Linked DNA regions of Homo sapiens: region 1 is reported to be linked to region 2. The links are microRNA targets in miRTarBase. Many come from high-throughput screens and were not tested one by one. Region 2 holds a microRNA gene; the other region holds the end of a gene's coding sequence.

What was found. Region 2 holds the annotated microRNA hsa-miR-1225-3p (UGAGCCCCUGUGCCGCCCCCAG, at 1,418-1,439, shown strand). A microRNA usually pairs through its seed, bases 2 to 8, with sites in the 3' UTR of a target mRNA and lowers its output. Matches are read on the target gene's strand: a 7mer-m8 pairs with bases 2 to 8, a 7mer-A1 pairs with bases 2 to 7 and ends in A, and an 8mer does both.
Region 1: miRTarBase lists CSRNP3 as a target of hsa-miR-1225-3p. Seed matches in the 3' UTR shown: 7mer-A1 at 383-389.

What each region holds. Positions count from the first base shown.
Region 1 is chr2:165,679,437-165,682,577 of GRCh38, forward strand. CSRNP3 (cysteine and serine rich nuclear protein 3) reads left to right here. Exons shown (of 7, transcript NM_001172173.2): 7 at 1-3,141. The coding sequence ends at 317. Among named protein-coding and RNA genes, the nearest start is that of GALNT3, 110 kb to the right of the region's middle.
Region 2 is chr16:2,088,634-2,091,633 of GRCh38, reverse strand. It overlaps MIR1225 (microRNA 1225), which reads left to right and starts at 1,350; the gene lies at 1,350-1,439. It overlaps TSC2 (TSC complex subunit 2), which reads right to left. Exons shown (of 42, transcript NM_000548.5): 42 at 2,143-3,000. PKD1 (polycystin 1, transient receptor potential channel interacting) reads left to right here. Exons shown (of 46, transcript NM_001009944.3): 42 at 37-211; 43 at 460-750; 44 at 826-960; 45 at 1,044-1,349; 46 at 1,440-2,926. The coding sequence ends at 1,907. PKD1-AS1 (PKD1 antisense RNA 1) reads right to left here and starts at 198. Exons shown (of 3, transcript NR_135175.1): 1 at 20-198.

The DNA of each region.
Region 1 (3,141 bases), not on the chromosome of region 2:
CCCGACAAGCAGAAGAGGCCTATGGTGCCTCCCACTACCCAGCTGCCAACCCCTCTGTAATCGTTTGCTGCTCCTCTTCCGAAAATGATAGCGGTGTGCCCTGCAATAGTTTATATCCTGAACACAGGTCCAATCACCCTCAAGTGGAATTTCACTCATACTTGAAAGGCCCCTCCCAAGAAGGGTTTGTCTCTGCATTGAATGGTGACAGTCACATTTCAGAGCATCCTGCTGAAAATTCTTTGAGCCTTGCAGAAAAGAGCATATTGCATGAAGAGTGCATCAAATCACCCGTGGTTGAGACAGTCCCTGTTTAGTAGCTTAAATTATTCTAGGACCAACTCTTCTCTTATTTAAGGCACTGTATTTAATTGGATTTCCTGGGCTCATCATTGTTTAAACTGAAGACCAAGAAAACTTGGACGGTGGTTAATCTTCCAGACTGTATTTTGTTTTTTCCTTTCTAGCCACATGACTGTGGCATTGCACAAATACAGTCTCTGTAGGGATTTTAAAAGATTTCAGACTGTTTTGATAGAAAAAGCTAAATTTTAAAATGCATATCTCACAGTTGCCTACCTGTCAAACTGTGTGAAACCTGCCAATCTGTGTAGATCAGAGCTCCAAATTTTGGATTATCGGGCCTGTGCAAGATTGTTAACTAAGGCTGGGAAATAATAAGATTTAGAGTCCTAATTTTCAATATATCTGAAGATAATGATGACTTTTTAATGTAAAAGTAATTATTGTAAGAAAAAGATTTAATTGTTCCATGTGTATTTTATTTATGGTAGTTTAGAAGACATGTTTTGATGAAAATGAACAGCCGCATGTTCATTCAAGCTGAAGATGCATAGCTAGTTCCACAGAGCATGCCCACATGGATTGCATCTGGAATCCATTCACATTTTTATGATCATGACTGATCAGATTTGCAAATTCTTAAGGGTGAAATAGGCCTATTTTTGCTATTTTGGACAAATAAATGATTCTATATGTGCAGGTCCTTACACAGTTTTCTCTAAAGTTAAGAGTTAGGACAATCCTCTGGGGAGAGTCTAGTTCACTGCCCTCCCTCAGCTGACTCCAGAGATGGAGGTAGAAGGAATTGCCTTTCTTTTTTAAACAGCATCATCTTGATTCTTAGCTTGGACAGCACCTTTAAGCTCTACCCCCTACATCAAAATGCACTTTAGTGCCCCTTCACGGTACCTCGTGTGGGGTGGGGACTGAGAACTCTTTGAGATGAAAAAATTTAAAAAAAAATTAAAAAGATCTTTAACTATTATAAGGTTCATATAATTAATATAGAGGAATCATCCAATGATACTTATGAAGGGAAAATGACCTATTTTCCTTCACCACTCTGAGGACCTAACTCAGTAAATGCAGAGGAGGCTGAGGAAACATGGAAGAGACACGACCTCAGCAACCAGCCTTTTCTCCAGCGTGATCAATCCATCTCTACAAAATCAGTGTATAATGAGATTTCCACTTAGTGACTAGCTGATTGAAGGGGGGCCTCTACCCAAATACTCAACTAGGCCTTTCTTTTCTGAAGCATTTTGATTTGTCTTGCCTGGGACAACTAGCAGAACAGTCCAGAATGCATTGCATACTTTCTAATTACCTCACATTCTCTTATTAAAGAGAACAGATAGAAATAAAACATGCACTCCCCACCTTTAGATTACCTGCACTTGGTTCGTCGGAGGACTTCTAGGATCCCGTTTCCCTGTAAATTAATTTAGGTAACTAAATAGTGTAATTCTGCCTTTTTTTTTCCAATGCAATATGACTATGCTAAACCTGTTTCATATTTTTGACCTTCTATTGTTATATCACTTCACATGTTTTATAACTATTTGAAATGCGGACATGACTTGCTATTCAGTGACTGCATCGCTACTTATTTTTTATGTCTTTTAGACTTGGGTGTTTAGAATTATGGATATAAATATATTGTAGATCTCAATTTCTAAAAAAAATATTTTATTTAATTGAACTTAAAAATGCTTGATCTAGAGAAAGTCCTCCAGTGGAAAAGTTTCTACTAAACTTTGTTTTGGGGAAAAAATGTTTACTTGGCAGCTCTTCCACTGTGCAGTTGGTTTCTGCCCCTTCTCTTCCCCCCTACATTGGGCCAAATTTATAACTCTTAATATTAACATTAAAAGAGCTTTGGGTTTGTCTTTATGTAGGTTGCAGTAATGAGAGCAGGGTTGTTCCTTTTGAATGATTGGCCCTTTGGGCTAATCAGAATGAGGATTTGTTGAAATCTCAAATATACATATATATATATATATATATATATATATATATATACACACACACACACACATACACATATATATACACATATATGTATGTGTGTGTGTGTGTGTGTGTGTGTGTATATATATATATCCCATGTTGTCTGCAAAGTGACAGTTTTTAGTGCTTAATCTCCAAAATTTTCCCCCTACTGATACAATCTAAAGAGCACAGGCCCAAAGAGAAAATGACAAGAGGCTATTGTTCCTTCATTCAAGCACATGAAAGGATCATGTGTACTGTATTTGCTGGACCATTACAAGCTCTTGAAGGATCTGCTTGTGAAGTACTCTGAGGTTATTCTTGGAACACAGAGTGTGGGAGAGTGGGGAAGAGCCAGCTCCAGCCTGAGCAAAGCTGAAGGGTAGAATGACAGTCCAGTTTCTGAAAAGAGATATTTTAATTTTAGTTCAGCTTTATTTTCCTAAGACGATATGAAGCCTACTTTTTTATTTTTGGCTAGGTCTTTGTTTTCTAGCTTTGTTTCCAAAAGGATGCTTAAGAAAACAGAGTTTTTTTCCCCTATCCATTTATCTAGGGTAGAAAGTCACTGCCCTGTGAGAAGAATTACCCTTCCAATCATGACAGCTTCTATTCCAACTTTTCATATACCTGACTAACCTGTAAACATATCCCACAAACCACATACACAGGCTACCTATTAAAACTCTCCCATATACCTAACACATACACATGCACACACATACAAAATATATACATATCACACACTTAGAGAATGACAGATTTCAGGCAATGGCCAATAGTCAGTATTGAGTTTTTCTAACCCCAGAATCTGGTTGGGCTTTATGATCTAAAAAAATGTGGTTT
Region 2 (3,000 bases):
GCCACCCGCTCCTACTGACCCGCACCCTCTGCGCAGGAGCCGCGCTGTGTTCCTGGAGCTCACGCGCTACAGCCCGGCCGTGGGGCTGCACGCCGCCGTCACGCTGCGCCTCGAGTTCCCGGCGGCCGGCCGCGCCCTGGCCGCCCTCAGCGTCCGCCCCTTTGCGCTGCGCCGCCTCAGCGCGGGCCTCTCGCTGCCTCTGCTCACCTCGGTACGCCCGTCCCCGGCCAGACCCCGCGCCTCCCACCGGCAGCGTCCCGCCCCCTCGCGGGGCCCCGCCCCGGCAGCGTCTCACCCCTCGCAGCGCCCCGCCCCCTCGCAGCGTCCCGCCCCCTCGCAGGGCCCCGCCCCGGCAGCGTCCCGCCCCCTCGTAGGGCCCCGCCCCGGCAGCGTCCCGCCCCCTCGCAGGGCCCCGCCCCGGCAGCGTCCCTCCCGCCCTCCTGACCGCGCCCCCCACAGGTGTGCCTGCTGCTGTTCGCCGTGCACTTCGCCGTGGCCGAGGCCCGTACTTGGCACAGGGAAGGGCGCTGGCGCGTGCTGCGGCTCGGAGCCTGGGCGCGGTGGCTGCTGGTGGCGCTGACGGCGGCCACGGCACTGGTACGCCTCGCCCAGCTGGGTGCCGCTGACCGCCAGTGGACCCGTTTCGTGCGCGGCCGCCCGCGCCGCTTCACTAGCTTCGACCAGGTGGCGCAGCTGAGCTCCGCAGCCCGTGGCCTGGCGGCCTCGCTGCTCTTCCTGCTTTTGGTCAAGGTGAGGGCTGGGCCGGTGGGCGCGGGGCTGGGCGCACACCCCAGGGCTGCAAGCAGACAGATTTCTCGTCCGCAGGCTGCCCAGCAGCTACGCTTCGTGCGCCAGTGGTCCGTCTTTGGCAAGACATTATGCCGAGCTCTGCCAGAGCTCCTGGGGGTCACCTTGGGCCTGGTGGTGCTCGGGGTAGCCTACGCCCAGCTGGCCATCCTGGTAGGTGACTGCGCGGCCGGGGAGGGCGTCTTAGCTCAGCTCAGCTCAGCTGTACGCCCTCACTGGTGTCGCCTTCCCCGCAGCTCGTGTCTTCCTGTGTGGACTCCCTCTGGAGCGTGGCCCAGGCCCTGTTGGTGCTGTGCCCTGGGACTGGGCTCTCTACCCTGTGTCCTGCCGAGTCCTGGCACCTGTCACCCCTGCTGTGTGTGGGGCTCTGGGCACTGCGGCTGTGGGGCGCCCTACGGCTGGGGGCTGTTATTCTCCGCTGGCGCTACCACGCCTTGCGTGGAGAGCTGTACCGGCCGGCCTGGGAGCCCCAGGACTACGAGATGGTGGAGTTGTTCCTGCGCAGGCTGCGCCTCTGGATGGGCCTCAGCAAGGTCAAGGAGGTGGGTACGGCCCAGTGGGGGGGAGAGGGACACGCCCTGGGCTCTGCCCAGGGTGCAGCCGGACTGACTGAGCCCCTGTGCCGCCCCCAGTTCCGCCACAAAGTCCGCTTTGAAGGGATGGAGCCGCTGCCCTCTCGCTCCTCCAGGGGCTCCAAGGTATCCCCGGATGTGCCCCCACCCAGCGCTGGCTCCGATGCCTCGCACCCCTCCACCTCCTCCAGCCAGCTGGATGGGCTGAGCGTGAGCCTGGGCCGGCTGGGGACAAGGTGTGAGCCTGAGCCCTCCCGCCTCCAAGCCGTGTTCGAGGCCCTGCTCACCCAGTTTGACCGACTCAACCAGGCCACAGAGGACGTCTACCAGCTGGAGCAGCAGCTGCACAGCCTGCAAGGCCGCAGGAGCAGCCGGGCGCCCGCCGGATCTTCCCGTGGCCCATCCCCGGGCCTGCGGCCAGCACTGCCCAGCCGCCTTGCCCGGGCCAGTCGGGGTGTGGACCTGGCCACTGGCCCCAGCAGGACACCCCTTCGGGCCAAGAACAAGGTCCACCCCAGCAGCACTTAGTCCTCCTTCCTGGCGGGGGTGGGCCGTGGAGTCGGAGTGGACACCGCTCAGTATTACTTTCTGCCGCTGTCAAGGCCGAGGGCCAGGCAGAATGGCTGCACGTAGGTTCCCCAGAGAGCAGGCAGGGGCATCTGTCTGTCTGTGGGCTTCAGCACTTTAAAGAGGCTGTGTGGCCAACCAGGACCCAGGGTCCCCTCCCCAGCTCCCTTGGGAAGGACACAGCAGTATTGGACGGTTTCTAGCCTCTGAGATGCTAATTTATTTCCCCGAGTCCTCAGGTACAGCGGGCTGTGCCCGGCCCCACCCCCTGGGCAGATGTCCCCCACTGCTAAGGCTGCTGGCTTCAGGGAGGGTTAGCCTGCACCGCCGCCACCCTGCCCCTAAGTTATTACCTCTCCAGTTCCTACCGTACTCCCTGCACCGTCTCACTGTGTGTCTCGTGTCAGTAATTTATATGGTGTTAAAATGTGTATATTTTTGTATGTCACTATTTTCACTAGGGCTGAGGGGCCTGCGCCCAGAGCTGGCCTCCCCCAACACCTGCTGCGCTTGGTAGGTGTGGTGGCGTTATGGCAGCCCGGCTGCTGCTTGGATGCGAGCTTGGCCTTGGGCCGGTGCTGGGGGCACAGCTGTCTGCCAGGCACTCTCATCACCCCAGAGGCCTTGTCATCCTCCCTTGCCCCAGGCCAGGTAGCAAGAGAGCAGCGCCCAGGCCTGCTGGCATCAGGTCTGGGCAAGTAGCAGGACTAGGCATGTCAGAGGACCCCAGGGTGGTTAGAGGAAAAGACTCCTCCTGGGGGCTGGCTCCCAGGGTGGAGGAAGGTGACTGTGTGTGTGTGTGTGTGCGCGCGCGCACGCGCGAGTGTGCTGTATGGCCCAGGCAGCCTCAAGGCCCTCGGAGCTGGCTGTGCCTGCTTCTGTGTACCACTTCTGTGGGCATGGCCGCTTCTAGAGCCTCGACACCCCCCCAACCCCCGCACCAAGCAGACAAAGTCAATAAAAGAGCTGTCTGACTGCAATCTGTGCCTCTATGTCTGTGCACTGGGGTCAGGACTTTATTTATTTCACTGACAGGCAATACCGTCCAAGGCCA